Regions from separate parts of the Homo sapiens genome. Here all the other regions are linked to region 1. The links come from fine-mapping of genetic effects on gene expression. A gene starts in region 1. Each other region holds a variant in brackets. All regions are shown on one strand. Distances are between the middles of the regions.

Region 1 (6,021 bases):
TAAGGGAGTGCCAGGGCCGGGTAAGGTTCACCTAAGGGAGTGCCAAGGCCAAGACTACTTTTGTACAATATGCACAGAATTTTTTAATGAACCAGTGAGTGTTGTTTCAAAGCCAACACATATATTCTAATTATTTCTTCATGCCAAGAAGCTGGAAGTACTTTATAGCAATTGGCTCCATTCCTGACAGTTATTGGGATTTAACAGCTTTATTGGCTGGGGGAGGAACACATGAACTCCTAAGGGCTAATACAAGCATTTGGGAAATTATCTGTTGTCTGGCGTCAGCACTGGAACAGGGCAGCAGAGCTGGAGAGTAAGAAGCAGAGCTGGAGAGGAAGAAGTGTTTGCTAAGTCACCGCGCAGGAGGAGACAGAATCAGAGGTGACGAATGTAAGTCCACCCATTGGCTTAAGATCCAGTATCCTGAGTGAGTTGCACAGATCCTCTCCTTCAGTCCTCTCAGGTAGGTGCAGTGGTGTCTCCCTGGAGCACAGAGAGGCCAAGTATCTGGCTCCAAATCACAAGACTTGCAGAGGGTAAGGCTGGTGTCTAAGGTCCCATCAGTTGAACTCCAAAGCAGGCTGTCTAGAAATTGGGTTCAGAGACCTCCCAGCCTGGAACCCAGTTTGATGGAGTCCCGCATTCAGGGGCCAGTAAACCACTGTACCCTGGACAACTCCATAAGCTTCGGTTATATTTTTAGGGCGGTTTTGCATGTTGAAATATTTGCATGCTTCGAGTCTACCATGCATGATCAGGCTGTCCCTGACCAGGGGAAAATTTACATAGTAAAATAGTATTACCCTTGAAATAGATTTAAGATAGGTCCTCCTTTTTCTTGACAGTATTACAACCCAGTTCAATTTCAGGAACTCTAGAGGTCCCTGCAGTTATGAAGAACTAATTAAAGGCATGAAATGTTCCTCTGCAAGTTTCATTGACCATATTGGGCCTACAGTCCATTTCCAAATAAATATCTAAGGTAAGAAAAATATGGGACTCCCCACAGACTACTTATCTACCAGATGGTGTGGGGTTTGGATGGATGTTTTCAGTTACTTCAGCAATTTTTTCATTAATTCAGTATTTATTGAGAACCTAATGTATGCCAAGCTTGTAAAATGCAGTGGGGGGTATGACCTATTCCCAGGTCTCTGGACTCTGGCAGAATGGTAGAGAAGATGCTGTCGGGCTTGCATGTTCAGAACACCGTGTCTTAGGTGACCTCCCGGGCCTTTGGAGGCCCAACCCCAGGGTGGCGGGATAGCCAGGTGAGGCTTTGTTTGGCCTGTTCACGTTTCTCTGGAAAAGAATGGGGGTAGTTAGGCCAGGCGCGGTGGCTCATGCCTGTAATCCCAGCACTTTGGGAGGCCAAGACAGGTGGATCACTTGAGGTCAGGAGATCGAGACCAGCCTGGCCAATGTACAGTGAAACCCTGTCTCTACTAAAAATACAAAATTTAGCTGGGTGTGGTGGTGCATGCCTGTAGTCACAGCTACTTGGGAGGCTGAGGCAGGAGAATTGCTTGAACCCAGGACGCAGAGATCGCAGTGAGCCGAGATTGCACCACTGCATTCCAGCCTGGGCGACAGAGTGAGACTCCATCTCTAAAAAAAAACAAAAGAGAAAAAGAAGTATTATTCTGCAGCCGAAAGGAAGTAGAGATGCACTAAGAAGATCACAGTAGAGTTTGGAACATTTTTGGAGTAAACTGAACAAAATAAAAACGGAGCAGCATGGGAATTATTTTAGCTTCCACCAAAAGGGTCTGTTTCTGCTATAGTTAACGGAAGTTTTCAATTTTCAAAAAATCCCAGTAGCTCGCTGAGTTTCAGCCTCCTGTAATTCAAGTACTGACAGCAGGTACTACTCTTCTTGGCAACAGAGTGAAAAAGGTTTTAAAGATGTTCCCGGGGCGTTAGCTTTGGTGCTGGAGTTGTAACGGCTCATTATGTGTATACAGCATGGAACTGGCAAAGACTGTCACAAGCAAAAAGAACACAAAAAGAGAAAGTAAAGGCTCTGGCTCTCGGTACTTATGGAAATCTCATCGTCATTAATTTGCACAAAGCCATTAAAAATAGCATTTACCAGCAGGGGTCCAGCGTTAATTAGAACCCAGCCTGGGAGCAGCTGGAACTCTCGGCGCTCCTGGCTCAGTCCTCGCCGCCCTGAACCCGTCTGCACCGCAGGGCCCGAGTGGGAGGCAGAGGCCACATTTCTGGATATGAGCAAAAGCTCCGACATTTCGTCCACTCTCGTGTTGTGAACTTTAAAAAATTCTGGAATCTGTTGAGAATTTGGCAATAAGTTTTTAACCACTAAATATGTCAACAACGCATCGCCTCTACTTTTACCAAAAAATAGGCGCACGAAACTCCGCTGTTTGCGCCCGCGGACACCTGTCCCCGCCTCCTCGCAGGAAGCGGCCCCCGCGCGTGGGCGCGGGCTCGGGCTCGGGCTCGAGTGGCGACGTGGGCCGCGGTCCTGGAGGGGGAGAAGCGCCCGGCGGGCAGGCGCGGGGCAGGGAAGCCCCGGGGAACCCACAGCCCCTCCGCAGACCCAGCCAGGGGGCGCGCGCCCGAAAACGCCCCGTGTGCACGCGCCCGCCCCCCTCCCCGCGCCCCGCGCGCGCCCCTCGCAGCCTGGAGCCGGAGCGCTGGCTCCGCGCGGCCTGGAGAGGCGGAGAGGCCTGTCCACCGCCCCCTCTGCCGCCCACGCCCCGCTGCGGGTCGGAGGAGCAGCTCCCGCTCGCAGGTGCTCGGAGAGGCCGGGCCGCGGCTCCCACAGGTGCCGGGAAGCGGCCGCGCGCATGCGCCGGAGCCCACCCGCCTGGCTGCGCGTCCCGGGCCCGGCGGCTGAAGAGGAGCCGCGGCGAGGTAGGGCGGACCCCGGGGAGGCAGCGGCGGGGCCTGGCGGGCGGAGCGGGAAGCAGCCCGAGGCGCGGGTCGGAGGGGGCGGCGGGTGGGAGGTGGTCGGCGAGAGCGGCAGTAGGCGGGAGGGGAGAAAAGGGGAGGCCGGCAGGGGAGAGGCGGGGAGGGGAGGCCGGCAGGGGAGGGAGGGGAGCGGAGCGGAGGGGAGGGGAGGGGGGACCGGGAGAGGAGGGGGCAGCGCTGCCCGCGGCGGGGTGGGCGGCGGTGGGTGGTCTCCGCTCCGCCTCCGGGAGGCCGCGTGGGGGGCGTGGGGGCCTCCTCGCGGGGTCTCCACAGGCCCTCCCCCGGGACGCGGCAACCCCGGCCGGAAGACAATGAGCCGCCCGCGCCGCGCCCGCAGTCACCGCCCCCGCCGAGGGTCCCGCCGCCCCAGCCGGCACGGAAGCAGGAGCAGAAGCCGAAGCCAAGCGCGCGGGGCCAGGGCGGGGGCTCCTCCCGGGGTTGCTCCGCTTGGCTCTCGGCGGTCGCGGGGATCGGCTGTCCGGAGCGAACGGGGGTCTCTCCTGGACTCGGGGCCCTGGGGAGGGGAGCGCGGCCCTTGGTCCTCCGCCGCTGCGCCCGGGGTGCGGGGGTGTCCTGGCTGCTGACCCCCGCGAGCCCCGAGCACCGCGACCCACCCGCCCCACCGCGCCGCGGCTCCCGAGTCCTGCCGGGCGCCCCTTGCAGCCCCCGCCCCATGTGCTGGGGAGACCCCCGGGCGGTCTGGGCGGGATTCCGCAGGGGTCCCTCCTCTCAGGCGGGGCTCATTCTGGAGCATGAAAAGAGGGTGAACCAAAGTCCCTCCACCTCTTTAGAGTCCTACAAAACCACGTTTCCCCCTCCACCCACTCCAGTGTCTATTCTAAGGAAAAGAAAAGGAACAAATCAGTGCAGCGAGCTTTATTCTACTCAGCCCACGAAAGGCGCCGCCGTCAGATTTTAAAGTTCCAGCCATCCCCTCAGGCCCTGAGTGAGAAGTTCGCCCGATTCCCCGCGGTTCCCGCCTCCATTTCCCACTAAGGAGCAGTTACTCAGGCTCCAATTAGGACCCCTTAATGGATGTCAATGGAACCCTTCAGCCTTTTATCCTGAGCTAATAGTGTGCTATTATTAGAATAATCCTCCCCATTCCTGACATCACGGAAGGGAGCGTTCCATTGCCTTCAGATTTGCTCCAGCAACAACCTCGTGTGTGCAGATTTATGGTAACTGGCATTGCAATGCTCCCATCAGGGCATAACTAAGTAAAAATTGTAATGAGGTAAAGCCTTTGAACTTTCCATGTCAGTTGCACAGGCATTGCTGGCCATAGCATTGGACAGCACATAATAAAATCAGTTAAAAGATGTTGCTTACATTATAGTGATGTGTAGCACAGCCACGTTCGGATCAATTACAGACCGCCAAGTTGACGGTGGTCCTGTAAGATTATAAAACTGTTTTCCCTGTGTCTTTTTCATGCTTAGAAATGTGTAGATACACAAACACCATTGTGTTACAATTGCCTGCGGTATTGTGCACGCTGCACAGGTGTGCAGTCTGGAGCAGGAGTCTGTGCAGTGGAGCACAGGTGTGTAGCAGGCTGCACCGCCTAGGTGTGTAGGTGCCCTGTGTGATGTTTGCACAGTGATGAAGTTATCTAACTATCATTTCTCAGAACCTGTCTGCATCTGAACCATTCGTGACTGTATTTAAGCCAGCATTGGGCTTGGGAGGAGGGGAGAAAGCTTAAATGTTGTGGCTCTGAGACTAAAGAAATTCCCAGGGAGCAGGACTCTGTGTTGACTGATGTCTGGGCCTAACTTGAACCTCAGAGCACCTTGCTCTGGGTGGATGGAAGAATCCGGAAAGGTGGTTTGGAGCTTATCGCATCATTTGTAAACTCCAATACAAACCCGCTTCAATGGGGTTTCCATATGTTCCGGTACAGGTAGCAACCTTGGCAGTGGGAGCCCAGCAGGTCCCGTCTTTGTCCCTGTGCTGATACAGAGAGACTCTCCGTGCTGTGGACGCCTCCATCTGGGCACATGTTTCAGTTGTTTTCTAAATACCAAGAGCACAGATTGCTCAGTAATAATAGCTCTCCTGCAAATCTGGAATCACTTAGGCAGCTGCAGTGCCTCTAAGCCTCCTTGCATCCAAGGCTGTGATCAAGGAGGACTGGTGTCTGAGTGGGCTTGAGAAGGGCCCGGAGAACAGCGGGTTTCCTGATCACAAATCAGCCTGTCATTCAGCATGTGTTCCCTTGGTGACTCAGGGCGATATCTGCCCTTCTCCGGAGGTCAAGGGCTCATCGTGTCAATTGTGGTCTTGAGTTTGTTTTTTTTTTCCTCTTGAAATCATTGTAATTAAGCTAAAAGTATAGTGTTGGTATCCAGCACATGTTTGCAAAGTATTTAACAATGAGCAAAAACTTTAAGAATAAATTAAAGCATCTAGTTTACTTTTTGCCAACAGCCAGGTTCCTGCTAGAAATGATTTTGAAATAAATGTTGTCTTGGAAATAGAAACCGTTGCATGTCTTATGTGCATTTTGTTTGAAGGATTAGCATGAATTTCCTTCTCTTCTGAATATTTGTGGAGTTCCCCTGCTCCCCCACCCCCCACCCTGCTGTGGGTCAGGCTCAGTCCTAGGTGCTGGGAATACAGTTGTAAGTAAAGTCAGCCTAGTTCTCTGCTATCTGCAGCTGAGACGTTAATACAGTGAAAGGCATTCAGCATATAATTACGTTAATTCTTAGGTAATAACACACGGAGATGAGTGCGTTGAAGGAGAGGAATACATTCCCTTGAATGCACGTAACAGAGGAATGTTAGGCCGAGAACTAAGGGATGAGAGGGGTGGCTCAGGAGCCCAGGAGGGGACAGTTTGCGGGAACATTGTGTGCAAAGGCCCTGTGGTGAGGACTAGAGCACGGAGAGGTCAGTGAGGGGCGCTGGAGCAGGGTGTAGTAAAAGTGTAATGTCAGCCGATTTTATGGCTGAGTTAAATTGATGGAGCTTCACACTTTAGAGCAAGGTCCTCCAACCCATGGGCCACGAGCCACATGTGGCCCAGGACAGCTTTGAATGAGGCCCAACACAGATTTGTAAACTTTCTTAAAA
Region 2 (6,021 bases), 45 kb before region 1:
AGATGTGTTTATTTGGTTTTGGTACAAGTTCACAGAGAATCAACGTTCATGGTCGGTGTGATGAGAGACTGAGATGTGAATTGCTCAGTAGAGAGTTGGCGGTGGCGTATCCCAGAGTGTACTTAGAAACATGAAAACTTCTTTGAAAGGGAGCTGATCACTTTTGGAAAAGATTTACAGTTCTTAGGAATGCAAATATTTGTTTCTTTTCCTTTTCATCTAAAACATTTACCAGATAAAGTTGAGTCCAGAGACAACTAACTAATAAGAGAATAATTTTAATATGTTTTTCCATTTTGGTGTCAACATTGCATGGATTTTTTTTCTTGTTCCAAGACTGGCTTTTTCCAGTGGAAACTTAGCAGTTAAAATTAATTTGTTCCAAATGAAATATTGCATCTGAAATTAGGCTGGAATTGCAGTAGACGTTCCTGGTTCTTGCAAACCAGAGGACATTCTTGAAGCTGTGTGGTCCCAGGCTCTCCCCTCTCTGGTTTCCTGTGTTCCCTCCCTGCAGCCTCAGACTCGCCCTCCAGGGCTCCACTGTGCTTTTCCAAACTCTCATCCTTTCCTCCCAGGCGTCCTGTGCAGCACGCCACTGCCTCTCACTTCTCACATCCACAGCTCCTGCTTGGTCAGTGTTCCTAGTTGAGTGTCAGAAATTGAACAACCCAATTAGCTGGTATTTCATTTGTACCAACCTATGAATGGAGGAGTAGCCTTAATTCCCTTGGGGGCTTCCACTTCTAAGAGAACTGTTTTCCGTCCAGGTAGGCAGACCTGTCATGGCTGAAGCTTCATCACCTGGCCTGGTCATAGCCCCCAGGCCCTGTAGGCAGGACAGGGGCTTGGCAGATTGGCATCCTTCCCACAAAAGCATGAAAGTAGGATGTCTGTATGTAGCGACAACAAATACAAGAATAAGGAGAGTTTAACAACATTCTCAAAGTTGGTGGAAAAGAAAAAGAATCAATGAAAACATCACCCTAAACCAGCTAGTGCTTTCTGTTTACAGGGATCAGACCCCTTCCCACTTAAAAAAAAAAAGACAAATAAATTTAAGTTTAAATTGGGAAACTAACTGTGCTATGTGTTCTCGTTGTAGAGATTCAAACACACAGGAAGTTCATGTACACTGTTGCAGCAATGCTACTTTAGAAATTCCACGGCAGGCGTGGTGGCTCATGCCTGTAATCCCAGCACTTTGGGAGGCCGAGGCGGGTGGATCACAAGGTCAGGAGTTTGAGACCAGCCTGGCCAAACATAGTGAAACCCCGTCTGTACTTTCACATAGTGAAACCCCATCTCTACTAAGAATGCAAAAATTAGCCGGATGTGGTGGCACGAGCCTATAGTCCCAGTTTCTCAGGAGGCTGAGGTGGCAGAATCGCTTGAACCCAGGAGGCAGAGGTTGCAGTGAGCCAAGATCATGCCATTGCACTCCAGCCTGGGTGACAGAGTGAGACTGTCTCCAAAAAAAAGAAAAAAAAAGAAATTCCACAGCATACCACATGTTGACTTCCAATGAGCTACTTGGGATGCATTCTTACTGATGTTTTTCCTATTTGAAAGGTTTATTTTCTTAGCCTAGGTCATTGAATATTAGTGTTAAGTTATTAAAATTGATAATAATCTGCTTCTTAGGATTTTAAATTGAGGATAGATGGGCCCTTACCTTCATATTGTGATGAGTACGTGATTTTTAAAGTATAGAAATGTGACTTTGTAGAAATGAAAGTTACGCTTTTGCTTTAAAATTTTTTGAAAACTGAATTAAATGTGTTGAAAAGAAAAAGGGGCTCTGTGAGCAATTGTTTAAGAATTTTTTTTTATTTTTTTAAGTGTGTTGATTCTCACATGAAAATCGAAGCTTGTCGTGGCCTTTAAGGGTCAGGTTCCAGCGTATTATGGAAGCCGCCACATGGTCGTTTTCTTCTTTCCTCCTAATTCTCTGATTCAGATCGGAAGTTGCACCCATCAAATGGGTCAGATTGCCATCGTCTCGTTTCAAAATTCCACTCCCAAAGTCATTGAGTGCTTCAACGTGGAATCTCGCATCCTGTGCATGCTGTACGTTCCCGTCGAGGAGAAGCGCAGAGAGCCTGGGGCACCCCCGGACCCCGAGACCCCGGCCGTGAGAGCTTCTGATGTCCCCACGATCTGTGTAGGGACGGAGGAGGGAAGGTAGGGCATGCTCACTGCGTTACAGAGAATTAGCAAGCTCTGCCCATGGAGGGCGTGGTGGGGAGCCTGTCCTGGAAAGAGTCCTTGACTTTGACTCAGGAGTAGCCCGTGCAGGAATTAGGGGATACCAGGGGAAATTTTTAGGGTCATTGCACTTTGAAATAACTAGTGAATTGGGCCCATGGAAATTATTCTAGGAAACTCTTAAAGAGAAGTGGTATTTCTTTAAAGGGGACAGTTTGGCTGTTTGCCACTGAAATGTCTCATTTATATTAATGGTTTTGAAAAGGACATTCCCCCCTTATATTTTGGAATAAAACAGCCATATTCTATGTCATGATCATACTGAATTGCTGACACCATTTAAAGGAGAGTTAAAATGATTTTCCTGATGTGAAGTTCCAAGATACACAGTAGGAAGAACTAA[G/GT]TTTTTTCATATATCCCAGAATTTCCCTTTTAAAAATAAAGAAATCAAGGTGGTTGCAAATTTTTTAAAAGTACTGGCAAGTGTCCCTAGGAATGGAGAAGGAAGGGCAAGAGGGAAGAGTTGAAATGTTTGTGTTTATGTTAACAGGCACCCTCGTTCTTGTTACAACGAGCAAATATATTTATTAGCTTGTATTTTTCTCTTAAAGCATTTCCATTTATAAAAGCAGTCAAGGCTCCAAGAAAGTGAGACTTCAGCACTTTTTCACTCCTGAGAAGTCCACAGTCATGAGCCTGGCTTGCACGTCTCAGAGCCTGTACGCTGGCCTGGTCAACGGGGCAGTCGCCAGCTACGCCAGAGCCCCAGGTGAGGCGGGTCTCACGGCCTCCTGGCCGGTCCTTGGGGTTCACTCAGGGGACTGTGCATCCGGTTTAGCCTCCCCACCTCCCCACCGGCCTCCTGCCTCCCGCCCCTGTGCCTCCGCCCCTGCGCTCGTCACCCTTGCCCAAGGCCCGGGTGCCTTGCTTCTTCCCCAAAAGGTGTTTGTTGAATATACAGACATCTTTCAGAAGTCAGTCTGCCCGTCTCCTCCCACCCTCCCACTTCTCTCGGCCTGCCTGTTTCTCCCCCTCGGATGGGGGCACCGGGCCATGCAGAGCCTCCTTCAGCATGTCCTGCGCTGACCAGCTGAGCAGCCTGCCCGCCCGGCGGGGCCTCCTGTACCTGGGCCAGCCCTCTTTGCCCCGGTGCTGTGCCCTCGGTCCCGTGCCCTCGGTCCCTGCTGTTCTCTTGGCCACAGGGCTAAGGACTCCATTGTGTTCTGCTGGGTGCCTTAGACGAGGCCCTCCCTGGCCCATCCCGCCTGGTCCCCGCAGCCGCTGGGGGTGGGCAGCTGCTGTGTGTCTGTTCTCTCTCCAGCCCCTGCCGCGTTGGTGGCAGCTGTGCTTTGCAGGCTCTTCCTGTGGATCTGGCCGCCGCTGCTTGTGGGAGCTCTGGGTACGGGGCTTTCCTTCCAGCTTCCTTGGTGCTGGCTGAGGCTGCTCTCCTGGCCCCTCACTCAGCTCTGAGCGCAGGGGTGCCGAGCCCCAGCTGGATCCCAGCCAGTCTCGGTGCTGCCATCCTGGAGTGGAACACGCAGGGCTTCCCTCACCGAAAGTTGCCCTGCACCACCCTCCCCACGGCCGGGAGCGACGCCTTGGCGGGTCCTGTTATCTTTCCCAGGCCATCCACCACTTGTTCTTGTACCCCGAGACCATGTCCCAGCTCACTCCCCCATCATCACCACCCTGGTCCACACCGCCCAGCTCCCGCCTGGATGGCAGCGTAGCCTCGCCTTCATTCTTCCGCTTCTACTGATTCATTCTCCAAATATTTGTTATTGAGCTTTTTAAACTGTAAATAAGGTTTTTACCCTCCCCGCCCCCCCGCTGAAAATTGTGTGGTGAGTCCCCAGTGTACTTAGAATAGAATTCCAGTCCTCCAGTCCTTGTTCCTTGCTCACAAGGCATTCTGCCCTCCAACCACCCCCGTTCTCTCTGCTCTGAGTGCTGCTATTGGAGTTCCTCCCTCCTTAGAAATCTGCGCCAGCCCCTCCCAGAGCCTGGGGTGTTATTTGCCCCCGGACTTTGACACCTCCTCCTTGGGGAGGCTCTCTCGACCTGCTCCACGGGGACGGCCCCTCCTTCTCCCGTGTGGTTCCGGCCTGGCCTGTGCGCACCTGCGCCAAGAAGGCCTGGACTTCTTTCTCACTCCGGTAGGTGGAGTAAGCACAGGAGCCGCTCCTGTCTCGTCCCTCAGCCATCTGGAGTGTGACCCTGCTGATCCCTGGCCGATCCCTGGCTCCTTGGCGGGCCTCTGGTTGCCTCCCTCTCATCCGGTGGGTGCCCCGGCCTGGATTCCGGTCTGCACCCCCTCTTCACTTGGCCTCATGATTTCAGTTCTCCATGGACGGTTTTGTGTCTTCGGGGTTGGGCTCTCCCATTCCAGTCCTGCTTTGTCATTCACCTGTTGTCATAACCTCTGCCAGCCTCCTTGGCCGGCTTTCCCGTCCTGTCTCTGCTCCACGGTAGGCGGAGGCCCCTCCGCATGTGCGCCGAGAGCCGCCTCCCTGCTGCCTGTGTTCCTACCACTCTGCACTCAACTCTTTCATGAAGCTTCGTGGAGGAATGTGTGTTGATAGGACTTTTTCATATAATCTGGATTTTTTTCTGTTTTTCTAATTTCTATTAAATGCAATAGAAATAACATTTCTATTACGTAAAATGTATTTTATGCTTATGTCCCCCTTTTTTCCCCTGGGTTTACTAGCGAGCATCTCTCCAGCCTCTTACTTGGCTGCATTGCTGTCCTGTCCACTGTGGAGCCCCGTGCAGGGCTGTGTTTTCGCCTTGTCAGACGCGTTGCATGATCTGTAACTGAGATCTGCTGAACGTGTCTCTTCGCATCTTTCTCACCAAGAGCTGTCCGGCGTACCGTGTGGGAGCGTGCGAGGCAGCCTGCGCAGAAGCGCATAGCCTGCCACTTCGTTCTTGGTGGTGAGGGACGTGGCTGGCTGGAGGCCTCGGCCCGGGCAGAGGGAGGGGGAGGCTGCTTCCTAGCCCCTCACTGTTGCCAGAGCTCTGAGCTTTCAAGGGACTTAAAAATGTGAAATTCTGTGGGCAATTTCCAGATTTTTAAGTGTTAGTTCAAAACGTCATTAGCGTGTGCCTGGTTCCGGCTGCGATTTGGGATCCTGCTGAGGGCTCTGGCCTGGGACACATACACAGGGAGAAGTCATCCCAAGAAAGACAAGCCCACACTGCAGAATGACCCACCCAGGTGCTCAGAGAACAAAGTTCAGTTGTTGGAAGTTAAACCTTAACCGAGGGAAACGTCTGAAGTAGGCCATCGTGTCATTGATCTTTGAGTTCTCGTTTCAAAGGAATGGTGCTATTGGTAGGACACTGCCAAGCCACACCTGACAGCCAGGATCCAAGCACAGTGGGCGGTGCATAGAGAGAGCTCTGACCTAGGATTCACAACCCTGCGTTCTTGTGCCACTCCATGCCCTTCAGAGTGTGTGAATGTCAGAGAAAATTGTAGCTCTGCCCTGAGCCCACATATTTCTGGAGGTTGCCGTGTGCCGTGCTTTAAAGGGCTATGAGTACCAGATGGGAAGGCCCATGCACATGTGTGTATGCACAGGAGTGTGAGGGGTGTGCATTGTGTGAGCAGGTGTGTATGCATGTATGCACATGTGTGTATGCACACGTGATTGTGAGGGCGTATGTGTGTGCAGGCGTGTGTGTGCCTTGAGTGCACATGTGCAGACGTGTGTGTCCCTGTGTGCATGTGACGGCAGGTGCACGTACTTGTGGGTGTGTGTGCACATGTGCATGCCTGCATGTGTGTATGTGTGTGACATGTGCACG
Region 3 (6,021 bases), 27 kb before region 1:
GTCACCTCCCTCGGGACCCCAGCCTCCCGCACTGTGTCGCCTCCCCCAGGATCCCAGCCTCCCGCATCGTGTCGCCTCCCTCGGGATCCCAGCTTCCCGCACCGTGCTACCTCCCTGGGGACCCCAGCCTCCTGCACCATGTCGCCTCCCTGGGGGCCCCAGCCTCCCGCACCGTGTCGCCTCCCTCGGGACCCCAGCCCTGCGTGCCCAGCCTGAGGACACAGTCCTCTCCTCAGCTCTCAGGCCCTGCAGCGCCCCTGTGTAGGCTGGAGTCCTCTGGCCCCTGTCCCTGATGGAATCTCAACTGAAATAAGAGGCGATGCCATGGGAGAAGGGATCTCCCATCCACTGAAGTCGCATCCCTGAATTCCTGCCCGCCGGGTTCACTGGGCTCTGGGCGCGGCGTAGTGCCGCAGGATGGGGTTTGGTGCCACGGGGCATGTGTGTGGAGTCAGCAGTCTCCACCATGGGGGCTGTCGTCTTTTCCCTTATTCTCAGATTGTGGGACAACTCGTAGGGCCAAGATGTCAGTCTGGTTATTTCCTGTGGGTTTTTATGAGTTTCATCACTTTACTTTAGATAACTGTGCAGGATCGTGAGTTTCTTTAATTTCAAGAGCTGTGAGGCTGCTGGTTCCTGGGGCACGCAGTGTCTCTAAGCTTCATCCCAGCCCTCACCCTCTGTCACCCCCTCCAATCCCTGATGGGCAAGGCGGGGGCAGTCCTCCTGGGACTGATCCCAGAGAGCCTGAACTCCAGGCAGCCCCTGAGGCCATGTTGGGGGGTCGCTGTGTTAGCAGCTCCTGCTGGCTGTGGGGTGACGAGGGCCCAGGCCCAGGCACCCGTGGGACCCCTCAGAGCAGGCCGCTGGGATGCACTTTCGGAGCTGCGGGGCTGCAGCTGAGCCTGGAAGCTCCAGAAGGACCAAGTTGCTTGGAGAAGCAGAAGGTGCCTTTCCAGGACAGCAGAGCTAAGAGGAGGCACAGACTCAGAACCAGGGTCAGGCTGCAGGCAGGCAGTGGGGCCCCATGCCATAGCTTGGAGACATCGAGGAAGGTTCCAGCAGGTTCTGATGGGCCTGGGGGGATGGATCCTGTGCCTCCCCTCGCCAGCCTGCCCATGTCTCCTTTAGGACACAAGCTCAGTGGCCCCTCGGCAGGCGCACCATGCCTGTGTCTTTGGAATGGCCATTTTCTGGGCTCACAAAGGAGCCAGGATGATTGGAAAATGGCAGGCAGTTGGGTTGCTGGTGTTTGGTTGCTGGAGACGCCTGTGATTTGGAGCAAAGCCTGCTACTGTGTTGCAGCCACTGAATGGCGCTCCAGCTGGACGCCACGTGGACCCAACAGGCCCCACTCAGACTCACTCCACGGGGCTAGCAGACTTGACCTCTCGATTTCACAGGGTCAGCTGGAGGCCCACCAGGAGGAAGGCATGGTGATCTCCCACATGGCCGTGTCCGGCGTCGGGATCTGGATTGCCTTCACCTCAGGGTCCACGCTCCGCCTTTTTCACACGGAAACTCTCAAGCACCTGCAGGACATCAACATCGCCACCCCTGTTCACAACATGCTGCCAGGTAAGGGGACGGGACGGGGCCCAGGGATGGGACAGCAACCGGGGACGGACGTGGGGGGTGCGGAGCGCTGTCAGCCCACCTTAGCGCTTCCCAGTGCAGGACACTGTTCACAACATGCTGCCAGGTAATGGGGTGGGACAAGGCCCAGGGACAGACGTGGGAGTACGGAGCATGGTCAGCCCACTTTAGCGCTTCCCGGTGCAGGGCACAGGTCCTGAAGGAGCCGCGTGCTGGGAGGAGCCGCGTGCTGGGAGGAGCCGCGTGGCAGTGCCATCTCTGTAGGTCAGAGTGGGTGGGAGACGATTTCTCATCATCGGTGCAACAAGGCCCTGGGGAAGCCAGGACCTGAGGCTGAAGAACACAGAACAGGAGGCCTCCCTTTGGCTGGGAGGGCTGTTGGGGAGAGGCCAACAGAGGCCTATGTTTGTGAATGCCCTGTTGCTGGTGGGTGTCACTGAAGTTTCTGGGCAGGGGAGAAGGCCATTACACATTGAGTTTTGGGAGGATCATCCTACAACAGGATGGAGGAAAGAAATGAGGAGGGGGCCCAACCGGCTTCTTTCACGGGTAGCCGGAGGCCGCTGTGGGGTCCGTGGAAGGGCTGTTTTGCTTCTTTGCCTGCTGGTGGGTATTGGAAGACATTTGCAGTTTTAAGGGGAAGGCATGAAGTAAGGGCTCTGCCTCCGAGCCCTTCGGCTGCTGTGACACACGCCACAGACGGGCTGGCTTACAAGCCAGAGAGGCTGCCCCTCCGCGTTCTGGAGGCAGCATGCCGGGGAGCACGGTGCCTGCAGGGCCGGTTTCTGGGAGGATCTGCTTCCTGCTTTGCAGTTGGTGCCTTCTGGCTGGGGCCTCATGTGGTGAAGAAAGAGCCCTGGGGTCTCCTCCGCTTCCTATAAGGGTGCTAATCCCATCATGGGGACCCTATCCTCATGAACTCATCTAACCCTAATCACGTCCCCAAAGCCCCGCCTCCTCGCACCATCCCACTGCGGGCAGGGCTTCAACATCGAAATCTGGGGAGACACAAACATTCAGTCCATGACGGGCCATTTATGATACGTTGAAAAAAACCACAATGATTAGGGGTCTGGTTCTAGAACGGGTGTGAGGCCGTCCTTTGACAAGGGGAGGATGAGGAGGCCGAGGAGGTGTTGAGGATGTTCCTCGGGGCCTCCGTGTCCCCGCCGCACTCCCACTGGAGATGGGAGGGTGAATATATTCGGTGCACGGTGGGTCCATGATAGCCGTTCTTTTCTCAGGGGCTAACTGTACAAGTCATTGTTAAAATACTACAGGAGATTTCTCTTAGTGAGAAAAGGAGGTTTATGTAACATGCAAGTTTATATTTAGAGAACCAAAATGGTTAAGTCCCTGTGGCTCAGAAAGCAGACGCTCTGCTGTGGACCTTGTGTTTTCTTTGGAGCACTCACTGCTAGAGCAAATGTTTGCTGCAGGAATAGGCTGTCCTTGTTGGGACAAAACCAAGTCACATCCGTAATTGCCAAAGCACGCTCTCACGCGGCAGTGAGTGTCCATGTGTTCAAAGTTCTGTACACAAGGGGAGGTGAGGAGGGTGTTATGAGAAAAACCTCTCCACTCGACCTCCCGTGGGCTCCAGCACCCGAGCCTCCAAATCCTGCCCCAGCTGCCCTGCAGCGCAGACCTCCCTCCGGGGCGAAGCAGCCCACGGTTACCCTGGTTTCAGAGTTCCGAGAGCAGCCACGGAAATGCAGCGGCCCTGCAGGATCCTTGGTGTTTATCCCTCTCCGGGTGGGATCAGAAAGAAACTCCTAATCAAGGGAAGGCTCTGGCAAGTGTGAGTGGAGTTTGTATTTTGAATTTGATTTCTTAATAAAATAACCCTTGCACACGATTTAATAAAACCCAACAGCACTCACGCCCAGGCTATGAAAAGCAAAGCAGGATAGGAAAGCCTGCGCTCTGGGGACTCACAGCCCCGCCCCCATCCCAGCACCCCACCCACTGTCAGCACCCAACCCTGCCCCCATCCTCACACCCCACCCCGCATTCAGCACCCACCCTCTCATCCCAGCATCCCACCCACTGTCAGCACCCGCCCCGG[C/T]CCCCCGCACTGTCCCCATACCCCACCCCGCTGTCAGCTGCCTCTCCCGCCCGCCTCCCTACTGCTGCTGCTCGAAAGCCACTCCTGTATGGCAGGTTCTTGATGCTTTGTTTTAGATACTGTCTTTGACCTCTCCTGTAGAAGAGAAAGATGGAATTATCCTGCTTCCCTCCAAGCATAGAGCACCCAACACAGTCCTGCACCCACCCAGAAACAGAATGCAGACCCCTTGCCGGCTGCTCAGGTCGCAGGTTCTGGCTAAATCGCAGCTGCCTGTGTTGCGTGTTTTGGATGATGAAGTTGTCTGTGGCTGGGCGCTGAGCCTTCCTTGGGACTTTTCACCCTTCAGCTCATAGTTTCCAGGCGGCCGATGATGGATCCATCCCAAGCCCACCACAAGCCTCTCACTTGGCAGCAGATGCATGGGGCTCTGCAGAGCCACCATCCCCTGGCGCCCACTCTCCCGGGCCCCTCCAACATCCTGGGCTGGCTCTCCATGGCCACAGTGCGTGCTCTCAGCCCCCTGCTCCGGGGGCCCCTGAATCGTGGGTCTTTACTTATTCCTACACGACATAGTCAGGTCTGCATTTTAGACCCGCATGAAAGCAAACACATGAGTCTGTCCAGATGGAGTGCCGTGCTTCTCGTTGGCAGGTTTCTCCGGCATTTCGGTACTAAGTTGGAAATAGCTCCAGCTTCACTGATTTCTGGGGTACACTGACTGCTTTACCCACATTCAGTTCTCTGCTCCCAGGCTGTGGTCTGCTGCCACCGTGGCCTTGTCAGCAGGAGAAAGGTACACGGGTTAGAGGCAACCTCGGTGACACCAGAAGTTCAGTTTTGTTTGTGATGCTTCTGACAGTGATTCTCTGTAAGATCCTCAGTGCGGCATAGACTGAAATGGTTCTGATTTTCATTGCATTTTGTGACTCAGAGGGAATGAGCAGGCCAGAGAGTCCTTTCCTCCAGAGAGTCCTTTCATCTCATCTCCTCTGTCTAGTCGTCTTTGCCTTTCAGCTAATATTTCATATATTTCATAGAAATAAGCATTATTGCATTTCATGCTGTATTTAGACATTCCGGTGGGGGCATGCTCATACCGTGCTGAAGTGCGCGGATGCTGAGGTCGCCGGGCCGTCACTGCTCCTGGGTTCTTCTCCTCCTTATCGTCCAAGATGGTTCCTGGAGGCCCACACATGTCCTCTGTGCTCTGTTCGCACACACACAAAACCTTCATTCTAGAGTTGTATTCATGACGATGCTCAAATGGGTTTTCATGTGTGTGTGTGTGTGTGTGTGTGGCAACAAGACATAAAATTATCTTTTTGTGCTATTGCTGGAATATAAAAGTCAGGTAGCTTCTGCAAATGAAGACTTGCCAAGCCGAAACAACAAAATTTGAAAAAAACAAACTGTATTATAACTCATGCCTTTTGTGTAAGTTCACACAACGTGATGAAACCTCCTTCCTTCCTCAGGGTCTCAGCACGCTGGCCCCTGGGGAATCCGTGAATCTGTAGCTAAGGCCCTGGCTTTTCTCCTTCTATTTGGAATTCACTTCTGAAAACCATTTAGCTCACGTTCTTTCACATAAGCTACATCAGATTCAACACAGACTAACAGTTGATGAAGGTCTGTGATTAACATACACATTCGTTAGAGCGGTCGTTACCTTTCTAAGTTATAAAGGAGTAGAGTTTACAGCGAGTGAGTTCACGGCGCCTCAGCTTTTAGGTTGTGAGCAGTTGCAGTAGGTTACATCACCAGGCAGATGTTTCCTGCTCTGTCCCGCATGTTCAAAGGAGGATATTTTTGATGGGAAAGTGCTGAGACACATGGTAAATTGCGCCTTTCTGAGTCTCCACCGAGCGAATACAGAGCCTCCAGGAACTATGTGACCAAATAAAATGGCCAAAATTTCCATTAGAAAAAAAAAGACAAAAAACGTGTAACTTTTCTGAAGACCATGGACTACACCGTAAGGGAATTCAGTAAATGAAACCGGACTCAAGATGGTGAGTTAACGAACGAGACTGAGGACTTGGGAGCCACAGCCTTTCTCGGTGGCCGGTGTGGCCCTGGCCTGTCCTTTGTTTTATGTTCCAGGCTGGGAAGAGCAGAGGGCGAATCCCCCTGGTAGCATTCCCTCCCATACTTGGGGGACGTATTGCTTCTTCTACTCACTGTTCTGTCTCTGAGGTTATTTGAATGAACCTGGATGGTGTTGTTTACACCCCCAGCTTCTCCCAGCCTCCAGGGCGGGAGATGCGTCTGCCTCTGTGGCTGCCTGCAGAAGGCCCTGGTGACTCCCCACGGAGTCACCATCCAGCAGCCGCTCAAGTGCAGTCAGTCCCACT
Region 4 (6,021 bases), 660 kb after region 1:
CCATACAAATTTTCTTGAAGACGGTGCAGAACAAAAGGCTGTCTGTGCTTGTGCTGTGTAGACGTGCATGACAGCCATGGGTCATTGTTTTCGGACAGACCTAGCAGGCAAATCTTAAACACTACAATTGTGCCTTTACTTACATTTTCATTGGATTGCCGTCCGCTCCATATTTGTAGAATCTCATGACGAGGATGGTAAAATTTTAGTTCCTTCCCATTAATATGTATCCCTCGAAAAGTAGGAAGCTCAGTAGAGGCCTTATCCTAGACCTGCCACTTTAGAATCTCTTCAGGGAAGCCCTGGAGGTTGCATTTAATTAGCAACCACTTGATAACACAGCAAAATTTCGGAATCTGCCTACAGAATCCAACAGAAACTTGTAAACCCGACGTGTGAAAGCCTTGTTGCACTCACTACCCCTTACATCCCTCTCAGTCTTTCCTGTTCTCACACCCTGCAATCCCACCGTATCAAACTGCACGCAGCTGCCAGTACTCACCATGTTTCTATATGGTTATGCCTTTGAGAGTAAATGGAAAATAGCCCCCATTTGAGATGATTGGTTTGATTCTAAGTTGTTCACAGATGGAAATACTGGGTTTCCTACTCATCAATGAGGAATTAAGCTCCAATTCTAAAATGTGATTTAATTTCTTATTCCCATAGAAATATAGGATTTTTGCATTTTATACATAGTGGCTGGAGTTATAAATCCTAACTGATATGTTACTTGTTCTAGGCCAATATAACTAACATGTCTTTGAGAGTAAAAATAAAATGTATAACCTTGACTTTTTCTAACAAAGAAAAGGAGGGTGATTTATAAACCAGAAAGGTCATAGTCAAAGCATAATGTCTTATCTCTAGTCTGATAACAAGTTTTAGTTCAATTCAAATACCCATTTGCTCAAAATTTTACCTAGCCATGTGTAGGTATTATGCAAAGCAAAAGAATGATGAATTTGTATTGAATATTCTGTGTATATCCTAATATTTCTTATGTCAGCTGTAAAATAAATTTTTCTAGTTCTGTAGATTCTGAAGCTATAGTCAGATAGGTGTGGGTATAGACCTCCTGGATCTGTTTCTCTGAAGAATTCTGATTAACGCAATCAGTCTGTAGGTCTGTAGAACAGGCAGACATGTATCTGCAATAGTTAAGTACTGTGCTACTTAGACAAAAAATTTAAAAAAATAAAATTACAAAAGACTTTTAAAACGGAAAAGGTCCCTGACCACATCCCAAGCATCATCAATTAAGGCATTATTAACTATATGTTATAGGGAACCACCTTGTATAAGAGAGAAAGTAGGCAGGGCGCAGTAACTCACGCCTATAATCCCAGCAGTTTGGGAGGCCGAGGCAGGTGGATCACCTGAGGTCAGAAGTTCGAGACCAGCCTGGCCAACATGGTGAAAACCCGTCTCTACTGAAAATACAAAAGATTAGACAGGGATGGTGGCATGCGCCTGTAATCTCAGCTACTTGACAGGCTGAGGCAGGAGAATCGCTTGAACCCGGGATGTGGAGGTTGCAGTGAGATGAGATGGTGTCATTGCACTCCAGCCTGGGCGACAAGAGCGAAACTCAGTCTAAAAAAAAAAAAAAAAAAGAGAGAGAGAGAACTGGAACTTGTGTCCTCTGCCTCTCAGTATAAATCTCCTCTTTCTAAATTGAGATGTTCTTTGTTTCTGGGAATAATGGTTTTTCCAAAAGGAACAAAAATGCGAGCCTGGTAGAAACTAACCATGATGATTCTCTTTTGGTTGCAATAATATGTGGGACTTTCACTTTCCATATAATAGAACTCTATGATAATTGCATTTTATAAGAACCATGTATAAAGCTGGAAAGGGAACTGAAAAAAGCATGTATTACTTTCATAAACATTTAAAACATAGAGACATCAAATATGAAAATCTGTTGTGATAAGAGAAATTGCCATTATGAAAATCAAACAATTTCTCTCTATTGTTTTAATTATCAAATTGGTTGACTTAGTTCATTTGTGCTGTTATAACAAGACATTTGCAACGGACTAAGTCACTTATAAACAGACATTTCTAGATCACAGTTCTGGAGGCTGGAGGTCCGAGGTCAAGTTTCCAGCAGATTTGGTGTCTGGTGAAGGCCTCGTCTTTGCTTCATAGATGGTGCTTCTCATTTTATCCTCACATGGCAGAAGGGGCAGAAGGAAGGACCAGGCAGCTCTGGGAAGATCATTTTATAAGGTCTTTTAATCCTATTCGGGAGGGTGGCGCCCTCAGGACATAACCACTTTTCCAAAGCTCCCACATCTTAATACTACAGCATGGGGCATTCAGTTTCAACATGAATTTTAGAGGGACACAGACATTCAAACCCTAACCCTGTTTTTTGTTGATAGTTTGTTAAAATTTATTTCTATGTTTTGAAACTGAAGTATCTCATGTAATTGGCAACAGTCCTTGGAAGAGGGTTCAATAGTGAAAGGAGACCTTAGGAATCTGTTTCTTATTCACAGATTCTCCTGGATTGCAGCAGGGAACATTGCAACAGCAGCAGCACACTGTTTTGCAGTGAAAATTGATTTTCCTTGCTAAGTTCCCTTTCAATTAACTTCATTTCTTGTTTCTCACACAGTTAATATATTATTTTTCCCTCTATGCCTAAAAGATCTAAGAGATCTGAGAAACCCCACAGCTAACTCGTCACCACTACAACATGCAGCTTTCTTATATTGACCGCAATTTTAAATTCGACTGGACATACGGAGTCAACTTACTAAAGGCTCCATATAATGTCTTGTTAGCACAATCTCATTGATAAAAATATCACACCTAAAATTTTTTAAAAGTTAAAATATAAAATAACCCATTTCATTTCTAATATTTATTTTTTAGCACTTATAGTCTCAGCCATTAGTAGGCATCAGAAAAGACAGCCCTGTTCCAAGTTTTCCTACCTTCTGATTTTCAACTTCATATCAATAAACAAAATAGTGAAATTCACCTAACTTTACCAATTACCATAGTGTACTGGTCTGTTTCCACGCTGCTGATAAAGACATACACGAGACGGGGCAATTTACAAAACAAAAAGGTTTAATTGAACTTACAGTTCCACATAGCTGGGGAAGGTCTCACAACCATGGTGAAGGGCAAAAGGCACTTCCTACATGGTGGCGGCAAGAGAGAAATGAGGAGGAAGCAAAGGGGGAAACCCCTTATTAACCCATCATACGTCATGAGACTTTTTCACTTTTAGGAGAATAGCACAGGAAAGACCAGCCCGATGATTCAATTACGGACCCCTGTGTCCCTCCCACAACACATGGGAATCCTGGGAGATACAATTCAAGTTGAGATTTGGGTGGGGACACAGACAAACCATATCAAATAGTGATGAGCAATTAATACATGTGGATTAAAAGTCTTTCTTCTCTAATTGATACTAAAGTTAAATGTTATTATGTGTTCTTTCTGGACTTTTCTATGAAAATGATAATGCATTTGTATATGACAATATACTTGCTTTTTAGTTTGAGTTTCTGTTTTCACACTAGGGATTAGATTAAGTAAATATACATTGATGAGCAAATACGTTTGATGTATAAAGATACTCTAAAATAAAATTAAAAGTATTGTCTTTGTCAATTATAAATATAAAACACAAAAGAAAAAATGTAGTTGTATTGCTTATAACCCAATAATTAGTTTTGGGTATAGAAGTCAACAGAAGTAC[A/G]GTATGATAACTACAGGTATTTTGAAGGGGAGGACAGTTTAAGAGGGTAAAGAGGGCTGCACATTCTTTGTTACGTCTACAAACAGAAATGAAATCAAATTCTTCTTCCTTTGAATCTGGTCTTGGTCTTGCTGTGGGTTGCTTGACCAATTGAAGTGACACTCTGGGTCCTTCAAGCCTAATCCGTAAGAGGCCTTGCAGCTTCTGCCTGGCCTCCTGGAATCCTCTGTGGTGGGCTGTTCCTGCCTCCCAGCTATTCTTACCAAGGCACCAGACTTACAGCCATGTGGACCCTTCAGCCCAGCCAACCTGTCATTGGAGTAGGGCTGGGAGACTCCTCTCACCCCCAGTGCAAAGTGGAACACCCAGTGCCCAGGATGATGTCATGAAGCAATGAGTTTAACCACTGCACTCAGCCAGTGCTGGGCTGAGTAAGGGTCCCCCAAAGACACCGATATCCAACTCCCTGGACCCGAGACTGTGTTAATGATATAGGAGTTCAAAAGAAATTATTTAGGCAGGTAGTGAGGGTAAGGAAATCCTCGGTAAGGTTTTCCTGTTAATGAAAGGCAGCCTCCAAATCATTTCTTTTCTAACAAAAGCAGCCTGTAAAATCAAGTTGTAGACATAAATAAGCAAACTGGAAGCTTGCAGGGGTGAATGCCGGCAGCTATGCCAGTGGGCAAGGGACTACCTGGGGGCTGGGCATGTTGAACATGGCAACTCCGTCTTCTTTGTCATGGAAGCAATGGGAAATCAATACACACTGTGACGGAAGAAGTTGCAACTCTTTGGAAATCTAAAACACGTAAAATGATAAAGGCTATAAAACATCCATTAATTGTGTTTTTACTGTTTGTTGATACACTCTGGACTGAATTGTTTCTCTTTAAAATACATATATCGAAATTTTCATCCCCAGTCTGACTGGTTTTGGAGATCGGGCTTTAGGAGGATAATGAAGGTCAAGGGGGGTAATAAGAGTGGAGTCCTAATCCTACAGGCTTGGTGGCCTTCTAAGAAGAGAGACAGACATTTTTCTCCCTCTTCTAGTGCATACACTGAGAAAAGGCCATGTGAGGCCACAGCAAGAAGGCAGCCACCTGCAAGCCGCGGAAGGTGGTCTCACCAGGAACCAAATCAGATGGAAACTTGGTCTTGGACCATAAACATCTGTTGTTGAAGCCTCCCCCTCTGTGGTACTTAGTCACAGCAACTCGAGTAGGCAAATGCATGAAAATGGTTGCAGTTTTACTGACTGAAGCAGTTAATATTTGTCAGCAGCTTCCAGAGAGGTAGGATAACCTGGTAATTATGAGGGAGGCTCTGGACTGCCTGAGTTTGAGTCCAGGAATCCCTATTTACTGTAAGTGACTATGGGCAAGAAACTGAATGTCTGTATTTCAGTTTCTTCATCTGTAAAATGGGATTCATAACAGTGTGGGGATTTGTGATGACCACAAATATAACACATGGAAGCCTTAGGTTACTAGCTGGCATGCACTAACAGATTCCTATTATCACATTTCAGTTCACTGAAGCAATAAAATGTTTGTATTTTTAAGTGAAAATAGGATGGCATGGTGGTAAAAACAAAGGACTAAGATACAGAAAACTTAAATTCAAATTGTTTTGAACTTGAGTAAATTACAATCTCTGTAAATTTTGTCCTTTTCCACCCTTATAAATGAGGGCATTGAAATTTAAATATCACGAGATCATTGAGAGGATACAATGAAATGATGAGATCTGTGACTGCATCTAGAACTAAGAAGCACTACAGAAGTATAATTAATAGGTGTAATTTAATGAATGTGATTATTCGTATTATTGTTACATCTCAGGAAACAGAAAATACCATGCTCTTACATGTTTTCACATTTACTGTGTCATTTGGGAAACTTGACCCTTAAAAGCTCCCATCCCTGGGACTTTTATATAAAGTTTTCTTCTCCTTTCTGCCAAGCTCGCTTGGGTGGCGGTCACCCTGCCATTATCTCCCTGAAGCAGAAGGGGTTGAGGAGGAGCCACAGGGCTGTCCCTGGCAGTCTCACCAAAGCCCTGAGCTGTGCAGATAAACCAGTGTCTGCAGGTAGAGGGATGGAGAGAAAGCTTCCCTGCTGTCTACTCTGAAGGTTCTCTGCAAAGAACTAAGGGTAGACAGTTCAAAAAGAGGCAAGCAATAACAAACTTATTAACGTGTACAGGGCAAAGGAATTCCACAAATATGACGCTCAAAGAAGGTCTCGAATGTAGCTTCGATGTGCCACATGTGGGAAAACTTGGAGGCCTGT
Region 5 (6,021 bases), 53 kb after region 1:
ATTTTTCAGCTCATTGTATTCTATTTACATTGCGCACACACAATAAATGCTTGCTAGAGCACTGAAGTGCATTTTTATTTTCAAACATAATGCATGTCATATGATGAAGGAAATCATTTCGCGATCGTGTTAATCATAGGACACCCTGCAGGCCCCCCTTCATGTGAGCCTACCGTGGTGTCCTATGTACATTCAAGTCTGATGAGTTAGTAGTCACTATAGACGGGATGTGGTGGCCCACACCTGCAATCCCAGCACGTTGGGAGGCTGAGACAGGTGGATTCCTAGAGGCCAGGAGTTCGAGACCAGTCTGGCCAACATGGCGAAACCCGGTCTTTACTAAAAGTACAAAATTAGCTGGGTATGGTGGGGCATGCCTGTAATCCCAGCTACTTGGGAAGCAGAGGCAGGAGAATCGCTTGAACCCGGGAGATGGAGGTTGCAGTGAGCTGTGATTGCACCACTGCACTCCAGCCTGGGCGACAGAGTGAAACGGTCTCAAAAAAAAAAAAAAAAAAAAAGTCAACATAACGTCTGAGCCTAGTGGATTCCACCGACCAACAGGAGCTTTGAGCCTTTTGGAAAACCTCAAATTATATTTTTATACGTATTAGCATAGTGAAAACTGCAGTCTTTCCTCACATTTTCAAATGTTTTGGAAGCATCTGCTCTACACATTTCTGTTTAGACTTTCCAATGTAAGTTCATCTATGACATTATGACTTCATCGGTTTAAAACCCTATTTTGCGAACAGCCTTGCTTTTGTGAGGTGGATGGGGGGGTTCCTATGGCTTCATACTGCGCGCTCTGTGAGGGTGGAGGCATGGCACTGAGCCGAGCCAACACACACTCGTGTGATTTGAAACTTTGCTTCATTGCATAGCAAACTTTCCGTGTCAAGCTGCAGGGTTACTGCAGGGCTTTAGAGCCATGTTTGAAACCTGTCCACAGATCTCAAAGCAGACTGGCAGAAGGAAAGCCGTTTATCAGACAGGCCAGAGGCATCCCACAGCGGAGTCACTCTGTAGCCAGTTTAGGAATGTCACTTTCCAAGTGACTAGTCAGTGGGCTGGGGGGCTCGTCAGGGACTGTAACTTGCACGGGCACTCCTACCACACACTCCCGTCCCTCCGTAAGTATCTGCTTTGCCTGAGGCAAACACGCTGCTATTTTTTTGTTTGTTTGTTTTAGAGTCTCGCTCTGTTGCCAGGCTAGAATGCAGTGGTACAATCTCAGCTCACTGCAACCTCCGCCTCCCGGGTTCAAGTGATTCTCCTGCCTCAGCCTCCTGAATAGCTGGAACTACAGGCATGTGCTACCACGCCTGGCTAATTTTTGTATTTTTAGTGGAGACGGGGTTTTGCCATGTTGGCCAGGCTGGCCTCAAACTCCTGACCTCAAGTGATCCACCCGGCTTGGCCTCCCAAAGTGTTGGGATTACAGACGTGAGCCACCATGGCTGGCCCAAGCTGCTATTTTAATTAAACTTTTTTGCACATAAAATGGAAAAAAAAAGTCACTCTGTAACTCGGGTGATCTAGACCAGGGGTTTGCAAACTTTTTGAGAAGAACCACATAGTAAATATTTTAGGTTCTGTGGGCCTATCAGTGTTTGTCAAATAGTCTTGTTTTTATGTGGTTTTGTTTTTACAACCCTTTAAAAAACATCAAAGCCATTCTGACACGAGGGCTGCATGCAGCCGGGCAGCTTCTGCCGGAGGCTGTGGCTTCCTGGCTCCTTCCCTAGAGCTGTCCCTCACTTCGCCTGCATGCCCAGAAACACATTTTCTTATGTTTCCAAAATAAACATGTCCTGTGAGTGAGGTAGATTGCCATCGATGTGGGCCATTGTGAGTGTCTGATTAGGGTCTCATGAAAGTCTTAAACTTTCGCCCAACTTTCTTCTGAACTTTCCATGAATTTTGTGAATGTACCTTTATGTAGAGTTGGGATCATCAGTGGCCAACAGCCCTCTTCAGCATTTGCTGTTCTCGTATTTCACAGGGATGCATCACGTGCTCTATAGCATTATTATGATTTATCTCTGGCAGATAAACATTTGGGACCAAGAAGCAAAACTTCTAGCAATGGCCTATGGGGTAGACTAAAAGCCACCAAAAGCCCTCTGCATGCGTCCAGCCACAGTGCAGCCTTCTTAGGGGCCGTAGTCACAGCTGGGCATGGTGGAGACACAGGGGACGGAGCAGGCGGCACTGAAGACTCTTCCCTAAGTTGGAACACACAGGACTTGAGTACGTGCTCAACACTCGGTGTTGTACATTCTGGAAACACGACCTCACGCAGCAATCGACCTCCCACCACGTCTGCTGACAGCACTGTGCTGGAGTAGACTGTCGGGGGTCAAAAGAAACACAGGGCTTACTCCCTGCTCCGGGGGCTGGGGGTCAGAAACACAGATGTGGGTGCAAGAGCACTCACCTGTAATAGTTAAATAGCAATTTAAGGCTGTAGGTCACAAGACTCAAACAAGCTTTGCTGTGAGTGTTACACGAGTCAGCGCGGCTGTGGTAGCGAAGCACCCAGACCGGGCGGCTTCAACAGCAGGCATTTATCGCTCACAGTTCTGGAGGCTGCAAGTCCCAGATCCAGATTCTGGCTGACTCGGTGCCTGAGGAGGGCTCTCTTCCCAGCTTGCAGACGGCCACCTTCTGTTGTGTCCTCTCCCTCCTGCAAGGACACCATCCTACCACACAAGGGCTCTATCCTCAGGGCCTCCTTTAGCCTAAATTACCCCTTTGTAGGGCCCATCTCCTGACACAGCCACACTGGAGTTAGGGCTTCACCATGACCTGGGGGCGGGGGTAGAATTCACTTCCCAGCAGACATTCCTGCAAGAAGGTGGCAAGGGGCTCACACTTCTGAGGCTGAGATCCTTTGCTGGGACTCCAGGCTTGCTCATATACCACACATGACCCTGAAAATCTACTTATTTATTTATGAGATATGGTCTCACTCTGTTGCCCAGGCTAGAATGCAGTGGGGCGATCTTGGCTCACCGCAGCCTTGACTTCCTCCTGGGTTCA[A/T]GTGATTCTCCCACCTCAGCCTCCCAGGTAGCTGGGACCACAGGTGTGCACCACCACCCCTGGCTAATTTTTGTATTTTTTGTACAGACAGCGTCTCAGCATGTTGCCCAGGCTAGTCTCGAACCCCTGAGCTCAAGCGATTGGCCCGCCTCAGTCTCCCAAAGTGCTGGAAGTACAGGTGTGAACCACCGTGCCCAGCCTCTCAAAGCCTCCATCGCTTCATGTGTAAAATCACAATAATAATAGAATCTCCATTACAGAGTCATGGAAACGAAAATAAAATAACACAGGCACTAGGGTTAGAAATGCCTGTCAATTAGCAAGGGACCAATACCTGTGGATCATAGTTCAAAAGGGCCTAAGTGGTATTCAAATTCCCAGTAGCTGTTGTTAAAAAACACACATCTATATAGTGAATGTCAAAAATAAACCTTATATAGTTCAGAAATGTTTAAGAAAGAAAAAAACTGAATTTGAGAAATTAATAAGGAAAACAGAAAAGGAGTCTGAGAAGGTGCTACTATCTCCTCACCCTGTTTTCAAATGTTGGCTGGAATAGTTTTATAAGGAGATCCACTCCTCACCTACACTTGGTTACCGAGTGGTACCATTTACATTCAGGAGGCTGGAAAAAAGAACTTGATTTTTCCTTTTTGTTTACCCAGTTTTTAGTATAAGAAGTTGGTTTCCCATCCCTCTCAGAAGGTAACCCATTCAATGAACTCGTGCTTTTATCCACATCTGATTGATTCCTCGCAATTCTTATCCACATCTGGTTGATTCTTTGCAATTTTATCCACATCTGGTTGATTCCTTGCAATTGTATCCTTTATTAGAATTGAATTTGTCCCGTTTTCAATTCCACCTGTAGAGTTAGTTTATTTCTCATTCTCTCCATATGGGACTGTTTATGGAATGTAACCTCAATGTTTCTGTTGCTCATTTGTATAAAAGTGCTTGTAAGATTAAGAATTTAACTTTCCTGAACCTCTAGGAGGAGGGTGGGGACATGACGCTCTTATAATTTCACCGACTGTTCTCTACTCTTGTTTTTGGTCCATGTTTTAAAAGATGATGTCTCACTCGCTGAGGTTTCCTGGCCTGCTCCCTTCCCCCATGTGGATCTGGTCACTGTCGATTTCCTGGCTCTGCTAATCCTGTCTTGCTCAGGCTTAATCCCACTCCCAGGAGTTGAACTTTGGCTTACGGTTCTGCCTTAGAAAGGACCCCCCCAGGTTCAGTTCCCGGGCTGAGCCACTGGCTGGGCACAGGGAGACTTGCGGCATTTGAAATGAGGCTCCTCAGAATCAACATGCGCTGTGACTGTAAAATACACACCACGTTCATAGGTTTAGTGTGACGAAAGTAAGATTTTATTAGTAATTTTATGTGTGATGTAGTTGAAATGGTAATCTTTTGGATATATTGGGTCAAACAAAATAAATCATTAAAATTAAGTTGTAGGAATAAATTTTCCTATTCGATAAGGTAGCTTTTCCAGGTTATATTTACATTGACCTCTGCAGGCATCTGGTGTGGTGGGGAAGCATCAGCCTGGGACTCCCATAAGCGGCTCAGGGTTTGGGGTTCTCCTGGTGATGCTGGGGGCTGCATGGAGATTTGAGCTTTGCACCCAGCTGCATCCTCGCCCTCAGGGAACGCCTCTTTGGGGTCCCTGGGGAGCTCACTGACTGGATTCCTCCCCTTCTTTCAGCCAGGTTTCATTTCTGACTCCCAAGTCAGGCTGTCACTTGAAAATATTTTTTGCGACTCACAGAGACTGTCAAGAAGAAGATTGTTGTCATATTCATTTTGTGGGATTTTATTATTTCCTTCTTTTTCAAGCTGATAGTCTTCAGTTCTTGTGTGTGTATGTGTGTGGTGTATTTGTGTGTGTTGTGTATTCATGTATGTGTGCATGCATGTTTCTGTTGTTTATTCATGTGTGCTTGCATGCATGTTTGTGTGTGTTGTATATTCATGTGTGCATGCATGCATGTTTGTGTGTGTGTTGTGTATTTGTCTGTGCACGCATGCAAGTTTGTGTGTATAGTGTATTTGTGTGTCCATGCATGCATGTGTATGCATGTTGTGTATTTGTGAGTGCATGCATTCAAGTTTGTGTGTTGTGTATTTGTGTGTGCATGCATGCATGTTCATGTGGCATATTCATGTGTACATGCATGCATGTTTGTGTGTGCTGTGTATTTGTGCATGCATGCGTGTGTGTTGTGTATTCGTGTGTGTGCATGCATGTTTGTGTGTTTTGTGTTTGTGTGTGCATGCATGGATATTTGTGTGCTGTGTATTCATGTATGCATGCATGCATGTTTGTGTGTGTTGTGTATTCACGTGTGCGTGCATGCATGTTTGTGTGTTGTGTATTCGTGTGTGCATGCTGCATGTTTGTGTGTGTTGTGTATTCACGTGTGCGTGCATGCATGTGTGTGTGTGTTGTGTATTCGTGTGTGTGTGCATGCATGTTTGTGTGAATGTCAGGATTCTCCAGAAAAACAGGACCAACAGGATGTAAAACACAAAACCCAACATAAAAGGAGATTTATCTTAAGGAATAGCTCATGTAATTATGGAGGTGCTGGGTGGGCTGGAGACCCAGGGAAGAGTTGCCATTGAGTCTTCAAGCCGGCCCCTGGCAGAATCCTGGGAGATCAGGCTTTTTGTCTGAAGGCCTTCAGCTGAGTGTGTGAGGCCATCCACACTGTGGAGGGCAATTTGCTTGACCCAAAGCCCATGGATGAAAATGCTAATCACACCTAAAAATGCCTTCATGACAATGTCAAGAATAATGATAATCAAAGATTTCGGTACAGTGGCCTAGCCAAGCTGACACATAAAAATTAACCATCACGATGTGCAGATATCTATAATATATTCTGTGGAGGTAGATAGTCTGTAGATAGATATCTCTGTCTTTATCTGTGTCTTTTAATATTTTTATTGAGATAAAATATATTT

What was found. PIP is the estimated chance that this variant, and not a neighbour inherited with it, causes the effect.
Region 2: its variant is the best candidate, but not a certain one, in a credible set for the expression of KBTBD11 in tibial nerve (GTEx, PIP 0.64).
Region 3: its variant is the best candidate, but not a certain one, in a credible set for the expression of KBTBD11 in esophagus mucosa (GTEx, PIP 0.68).
Region 4: its variant is the best candidate, but not a certain one, in a credible set for the expression of KBTBD11 in left ventricle (GTEx, PIP 0.90).
Region 5: its variant is the best candidate, but not a certain one, in a credible set for the expression of KBTBD11 in atrial appendage (GTEx, PIP 0.86).

What each region holds. Positions count from the first base shown.
Region 1 is chr8:1,971,053-1,977,073 of GRCh38, forward strand. It overlaps KBTBD11 (kelch repeat and BTB domain containing 11), which reads left to right and starts at 2,625. Exons shown (of 2, transcript NM_014867.3): 1 at 2,625-2,883. KBTBD11-AS1 (KBTBD11 antisense RNA 1) reads right to left here and starts at 2,293. Exons shown (of 3, transcript NR_136275.1): 1 at 2,096-2,293; 2 at 1,488-1,611; 3 at 127-1,305. It overlaps KBTBD11-OT1 (KBTBD11 overlapping transcript 1), which reads left to right and starts at 345. Exons shown (of 3, transcript NR_126346.1): 1 at 345-466; 2 at 873-985; 3 at 4,847-5,392.
Region 2 is chr8:1,926,467-1,932,487 of GRCh38, forward strand. ARHGEF10 (Rho guanine nucleotide exchange factor 10) reads left to right here. Exons shown (of 29, transcript NM_014629.4): 24 at 1,961-2,184; 25 at 2,820-2,977. Among named protein-coding and RNA genes, the nearest start is that of KBTBD11-OT1, 42 kb to the right of the region's middle. The variant G/GT (reference allele first, on the strand shown) is at 2,612.
Region 3 is chr8:1,944,078-1,950,098 of GRCh38, forward strand. ARHGEF10 (Rho guanine nucleotide exchange factor 10) reads left to right here. Exons shown (of 29, transcript NM_014629.4): 27 at 1,404-1,578. Among named protein-coding and RNA genes, the nearest start is that of KBTBD11-OT1, 24 kb to the right of the region's middle. RefSeq lists a silencer at 2,351-2,502 and an enhancer at 5,593-6,021. The variant C/T (reference allele first, on the strand shown) is at 3,665.
Region 4 is chr8:2,635,166-2,641,186 of GRCh38, forward strand. The region is part of intron 2 of LINC03021 (long intergenic non-protein coding RNA 3021); the gene reads right to left. Among named protein-coding and RNA genes, the nearest start is that of LINC03021, 90 kb to the right of the region's middle. The variant A/G (reference allele first, on the strand shown) is at 3,728.
Region 5 is chr8:2,024,347-2,030,367 of GRCh38, forward strand. No RefSeq gene overlaps it. Among named protein-coding and RNA genes, the nearest start is that of MYOM2, 18 kb to the right of the region's middle. The variant A/T (reference allele first, on the strand shown) is at 3,046.